Linked DNA regions of Homo sapiens. The gene in region 1 interacts genetically with each later gene. Each region holds a gene or a part of one and is shown in the gene's direction. Other genes may lie near its edges.

What was found.
Region 2: changes in RB1 (region 1) and RBBP7 together harm fitness more than expected from each alone (negative genetic interaction), as found in Homo sapiens cells (one large-scale study listed by BioGRID).

Annotation. Positions count from the first base shown.
Region 1 is NC_000013.11:48,366,251-48,369,750, forward strand, and holds part of RB1 (retinoblastoma-associated protein), read left to right. Parts: intron 1-1,243; coding exon 1,244-1,353; intron 1,354-2,276; coding exon 2,277-2,354; intron 2,355-3,500. UniProt on the Homo sapiens protein: Tumor suppressor that is a key regulator of the G1/S transition of the cell cycle. The hypophosphorylated form binds transcription regulators of the E2F family, preventing transcription of E2F-responsive genes.
Region 2 is NC_000023.11:16,853,363-16,856,862, reverse strand, and holds part of RBBP7 (histone-binding protein RBBP7), read left to right. Parts: intron 1-3,020; coding exon 3,021-3,181; intron 3,182-3,500. UniProt on the Homo sapiens protein: Core histone-binding subunit that may target chromatin remodeling factors, histone acetyltransferases and histone deacetylases to their histone substrates in a manner that is regulated by nucleosomal DNA.

The DNA of each region.
Region 1 (3,500 bases):
AAGGATTATAGTTTTAATATAAATCTTAAGAGTAATTTTACTTTTTCTCCAATATTTCACATAATATAGCCAATCAATAGATGACTGGTAATTAGTGCCTCAACTAAGGTAGGACAGGAACAATGATTAAACATAAGCATGGATTACTGTTCTATCTAATACATTTATGAAGATTAATGAAAAGTTTGCATTTAATTGGATTTCTTCCTATCACTCCTTTTAAAATGCAATTTTACTTCTCTGAGGTTGGAATCACTTTGGCGTTAAAAGTCACAGTAGAAGGCATGCCAATAGTTTTCTCTTGGGCATTGGTTTTTAAAGTATAATTAAAAAATTATGGATCAGAACTGATGAAAGATTTACAAATTCTAGCAATTGAAAAAGTATCTAAGATTGGGAATAAATTGTGCAAGTGTGTTAATTGAACTGATAAATTGAGCTAATTGTCTTGCCCAAGATACTTAACTGAAGGGTACTGGAGTGAACCAAAGGGTTTAGAAAACATTGGTAGAATATGTAATCAAGAGGATTTGCAACAATGTTTGAAAAAATATTTTATATTGATAAGCATAAAAGATTAAAAGCAGGCTGGGCGCGGTGGCTCACGCCTGTAATTCTAGTACTTTGGGAGGCCGAGGCAGGTGGATCACCTGAGGTCAGGAGTTCAAGACCAGCTTGGCCAACATGGCGAAACCCCGTCTCTACTAAAAATACAAAAATTAGCCGGGCATGGTAGCAGGTACCTATAATCCCAGCTACTCGGGAGGCTGAGGCAGGAAAGTTGCTTGAACCCCGGGGGCAGAGGTGGCAGTGAGCCGAGATTGTGCCACTGCACTCCAGCCTGGGCGAAAGAGCGAAACTCCATCTCAAAAAAAAAAAAAAAAAAAAGATTAAAAGTAAAGCATATATGGGATGTTTGGAAAATCTTGGCAGTTAAACAGTTATTATAATACCTATTTTTATCTTAGGTACTGTTTTGTAGCATTGGCTATCTTTGTCTACATAAAATTCTAATAAATATTTTCTATGCACGAAATAGACCTAAAATCAAAGTTGAACAAATGTTGCAATTTTCTGTACCTCACTTTTAGATAGACCTTATTTATATTGCATGCGAACTCAGTGTATATTACAAAATTAAATGTATATTATACAAAAATTCTTTAATGAAATCTGTGCCTCTGTGTGCTGAGAGATGTAATGACATGTAAAGGATAATTGTCAGTGACTTTTTTCTTTCAAGGTTGAAAATCTTTCTAAACGATACGAAGAAATTTATCTTAAAAATAAAGATCTAGATGCAAGATTATTTTTGGATCATGATAAAACTCTTCAGACTGATTCTATAGACAGGTATTGCACATGGTATATTTGATTGATTTGCTTTAGATATAGGTTGATACTGATATAGGTAGATTATATAGTCTTTAGCTTAGTGACCTTTAGATATCATTTATAACAAATTACTTTCAAATGTCTTTATACAAAGAAAAGTTTAACAGTATTTTAAGCATATAACTTATCTACAAATATAGATTTAATGTGAATTGTGTGTCCTATAACAGTTACCTTTTTGCAGTTAACTGAATATAATTTTTTAAAATGTGCACCAAAAGATAATGGCTAAAGTAATTAGTTTCTTCAAATAGTGGTCTCTACCTTATTTCTATCCTTTCATATACTATTGCCTGCCTGGTTTATTTAAAAAAGTTTATACAAAAGTGTAGTCTCTGTTATTATCATGTAGAAACCTAAAATTGGAATGGTTGAGAGTGATTGTTAAAATTTTTGACTGATCATAAGTAAAGTTAATTTTGTGTCTTTAGCATGAACTCTTTTAATATGAAACTGAAAATATGCGTAATTTAGAAGTTAAACACAGTAAAATGTTTTAAATTTTATTTAAGTGGAAATAAAGTTTTTAGAAGGAATAATGCATTGAAAAACTTGAGTTTTAATGCTTTTTAATACTGAACAACTTGGTTATCAATACCACCAGGGAGAAAGCATCTGACTTTCACTTTTAAAAAAAGACTTAATGATTGGTATACCTCTTTGTCATAAACATAATGGAAAGAGACCCACAATTAAAAAGAGTAGTGAAAAATATTTTATTTAAGCAGCAGCTGGGTCATCTATTTTCTATCCTATCTATTATTGAGTTATCATTTTATATGATTTTATGAGACAACAGAAGCATTATACTGCTTTTTTGATGCATAAAGCACAAATTGTAAATTTTCAGTATGTGAATGACTTCACTTATTGTTATTTAGTTTTGAAACACAGAGAACACCACGAAAAAGTAACCTTGATGAAGAGGTGAATGTAATTCCTCCACACACTCCAGTTAGGTATGAATTTTCCTACTTTTAATTATATTATAATTTTGTTATTCATGGCTTTATAGTGTTTCAGATTTGTTCACGTTTCTTTATGTATTCATACATACATGTAAGAAATATATATTGAAGGCCAGGTGTGGTGGATCACACCTGTAATCCCAGCACTTTGGGAGGCCAAGGCGGGCAGATCACCTGAGGTTAGGAGTTTGAGACCGGCCTGGCCAACATGGTGAAACCCCGTCTCTACTAGAAATACAAAAATTAGCTGGGGGTGGTGGTGTGTGCCTGTAATCCCAGCTGCTCGGGAGGCTGAGGCAGGAGAATTGCTTGAACCCGGGAGGCGGAGGTTGCAGAGAGCTGAGATCGTGCCATTGCACTTCAGCCTGGGTGACAAGAGCGAAACTCCGTCTCAAAAAAAAAATGTGTATATATAATCTTTGTGTGCTGGGCATTTTACTGGTTGCTGAAGATATGGTTATTGGACCTAGTTTTGTCTGTTCTTAAAGAACATAACCTAAAATAGGAATGTGTTCCATTTCAGTAAATAAAAAAGAAAAAATTAAAGTATCACTATTTGATCTGCATGCAACCTTAAAGGATTAGAACTATTTTTTATGTCTTTTTCCTCACTCATTTCCCACATCAAAATCTGTTATCAAGGCTTGTTGAATAATCTACCTCCAAAATATTTCCTGAGTGCATCTACTTTTCTCCATTTCTGCTCTCACAACTCTTGTCCAAGACATTGTTCTCTTTCTCTTGGATTTTTTGCAGTAGCCTACTACCTGATCTTGCTCCTTCTGGTCTCATCATTGTTCCTGTCTCCTCACCATCAAAGATATTCTCCATAGAGCCCCCAGAATTTCTCCTAGAAATGTAAATCAGTTACATTCACCTTGCTGTTAAACCCACTGACTGCTTCCCATTGCAATTGGTATACAGTGCAAATTCCTTAACAATGCCTAAAAGATCTTATATGGTCTGGTTTCTGTTGCCTCTCCAACCTCATCTTGTTTTCTTTCTCACTCTGTGTTAGCCACACTTTGGCCTTCTCTGTTTCTTGGGCTTTCCAAGTTTTTTGAAAACCCTCGTACTTGATATTCCCTCTTCTTGAAATTTCCTCCTTTTCTTTCCATGGATTACCAACTGCTACTC
Region 2 (3,500 bases), on another chromosome or scaffold:
CATTTGTTTACAAGTTTTTGTGTAGATGTATGTTTTTATTTCTCTTGGATATATACCTAGGAGTGGAATTATTGGATCATATGGTATCTCTGTTTAATTTTTTGAAGAATTACCAAACTGTTTTCCAAAGTGGCTTTCCATTTTACATTTCCACAAGCAATGTACAAATGTTCCAGTTTCTCTACATCCTCACTAATGCTTGTCTTTTTTATTATAGCTATCCTAGTGTGCATAAAGTGGTATTTCCTGGGTTTTTTTTTGTTTGTTTTTGGCTTGGGGGTGGGGAGTTGGTTTTTGTTGTTGTTGTTGTTGTTGTTGTTTTGTTTGTTTTTTGAGACGGAGTCTGTCTCTGTCACCCAGGCTGGAGTATAGTGGCACGATCTCAGCTCACTGCAACCTCCACCTCTCAGGTCCAAGCGATTCTCCTGCCTTAGCCTCCCAAGTAGCTGAGATTACAGCCATGCACCATGAAACCCAGCTAATTTTCGTACTTTTAGTAGAGACAGGGTTTCACCATGTTGGCCATGCTGGTCTTGAGCTCCTGGGCTCAAGCAATCCTCCTGCCTTGGCCTCCCAAAGTGCTGGGATTACAGGCATGAGTCACTACGCCCAGCTCATTGTGGTTTTAATTTGCATTTCCCTGATGACTAATGATGATGAGCATCTTTTCTTGTACTTACTGGCCATTTGCATATCTCCTTTAGAGAAATAGGTATTCAAATTCTTTGTCCATATTTTAATTTTGTCTTTTTATTGTCAAGTTATAAGAGTTTCTTATGTATTCTAGGTATAAGTCCCTATGATTTTCAAAAATTTTCTCCCATTCTGTTGTCTTTTCACTTTTTTTTTTTTTTTTTTTTTTTTTTTGAGACAAGGTCTTGCTCTGTCACCCAGGCTGAAGTGCAGTGGCTCAGTCTCGGCTCACTGCACCCTCCACCTTTCCAGCTCTAGTGGTTCTCTACCTCAGCCTGTCAAGTAGGTGGGACTACAGGCGCCCACCACCACACCCAGCAAATTTTTGTATTCTTTGTAGAGATGGAGTTTTGCCGTATTGCCCAAACTGGTCTTGAACTCCCGGGCTCAAGTGATCCACCTTCCTTGGCCTCCCAAAGAGCTGGGATTATAGGCTCTCTGAAAGGATGCTTCCCTCAAAGTGTGTATGAGACGGTTTCCCAAGTAGGGAAAGTGGATAAGTGGATTGTACTCAGTAACCCAATTACTAGTACCTTTTGAAGAGACCAGGCTGGGAATTGGTAGTAATAATAATAGCTGACATTTACCAGGGGCTACCCACATGCCAAGCATCATGCTAATCTTGCCAGGTCCTTCTGAGTCAGTGTGAATGGCAGGAGCACCACATGTTCCTTTCTCTTCAGTTCACACACATTGAGTGTCTTCATGTGTAAGTAACAACAGAGACTGAGGGCATATGTATTGTGTAAAAAAAAATTTTGTTACTGGGAAAATAGCCATTACTGGGAAATAGCTTTGTTACAGAAAGTCCTTCATGTGGCTGGGCACAGTGGCTCACGCCTGGAATCCCAGCACTTTGGGAGGCCAAGGTGGGTGGGTCACCTGAAGTCAGGAGTACAAGACCAGCCTGGCCAACGTGGTGAAACTCCGTCTCTACTAAAAATACAAAAAAATTAGCTGGGCTTGGTGGCATACACCTGTAATCCCATCTACTCGGGAGGCTGAGGGAGGAGAATTGCTTGAACCCGGGAGGCGGAGGTTGTAGTGCGCCAAAATTGTGCCCTTGCATTCCAGCCTAGGCAAGAGAGTGAGACTCCGTCTCAAAAAAAAAAAAAAGGTGATTTAATAAAAACAGATGAAGCCCTTTCATGATCACGTGCTATGAATTAAAAAAAAAAAAAAAACCCATACCAGTGTCGGTGGAACTATAATTAGTGCTAATATACCTTCATGGTATTATTTCTTATTAACTATTGAATGAGAATCGTTGCCCTATACCTTGCAATATTTTTTCATTAAAACTTTCCTCTTAACTCTTTCTGTGATAGGATGTCAAGGCCCACATCATGAGGCCTCCTTATTTGTGGGCTGCTGTGACCTTTGAGGCCCAAGCAGAGGCCCCATGGCCTCTGCTTGGGCTCTGCTGACGTTTCAAGGAGCACATCATTGGGGATCTGTCTGTGGGCGCCAGGCCTTGACCTCTCAGAGTAGACTAGTAGAGGTTTCTGGCCCAGTGTCGTTTACCTGTCCCATCTCCTGATGTCTGTGGTGGTTTCTGCCATGAAGTGAAAGACTTGTCCATGAGGCTTTTGCTATGTGAGAGGCAGAGTTTAATTTTAATTCCCAGTCTTCCCATCCCAGTGTAAACTTTTAGGATGTGCATTTGTGTTCAGTAGATGCTGAGCGCCGGGCTCTTGGTGATTTGTTGTGTTGTCTAAGTGAATTTGGGGTACTTGAATGTCTGAATGTATGTAGGTAGAAATTCCAGCATCAGTGTCCTTGCCTGCCACTGTACTCAGTCTCCCCTCCCCCTCATTACAGTGGAGTGTCCTTTTCCTCTGCACCTCACATGGAGGCTGCAGCCACATACTCTTCTGTTTGCTTATATTTTCTCTCTTGTGTTTACCTCAAACTTATATAGTTGAATAGTTTTGTTTGTAATGAAATTATTTTAAATAAGATGTTAGCATTTAAATTCAATCTCTTGACCGGGCACAGTGGCTCACACCTGTAGTCCCAGCACTTTGGGAGGCCAAGGCAGGCGGATCACTTGAGGCCAGGAGTTCAAGACCAGCCTGGCCAATATGGTGAGACCCCCGTCTCTACTAAAAATACAAAAAAAATGAGCCAGGCATGGTGGCTTGCACCTGTAATCCCAGCTCAGGAGGCTGAGGCAGGAGAATCGCTTGAGCCCTGGAGGCGGAGGCTGCAGTGAGCCGAGATCGCACCAGCCTGGGTGACAGACTGAGACACTGTCTCGAGGGAAAAAAAAAAAAATCAGTCTCTTATAGCCCTTGTTCTTTTTTTTTTCTCTCCTTCTCTCTTAGACTGTTTGTCTGTGGGATATAAACGCAGGACCAAAAGAAGGCAAAATTGTGGATGCTAAAGCCATCTTTACTGGCCACTCAGCTGTTGTAGAGGATGTGGCCTGGCACCTGCTGCACGAGTCATTGTTTGGATCTGTTGCTGATGATCAGAAACTTATGATGTAAGGTGGAAAATTCAGTGGGATCTTGTTAAATGGGTGACCTGAATGACCATCAGTGATTGCTGCAGGCTGTAGTTTGATTTTTTTTTTTTAAGTTATGGCTTTAAAAAACAGCTTTAGGTAGCTTACTCCTGTAATCTCAATACCTTGGGAAGCTGAGGCAGGAGGATTGCTTGAGACCAGGAGTGTGAGACTCTACACAAAATTTAAAAACAAAAAATTAGTTGGGTATGGTGGTGTGCACCTGTAGTCCTAGCTACTCAGGAGGCTGAAGTGGGAGGATCACTTATTATTTAGAAAAAAAGAAAACTAGGTATGG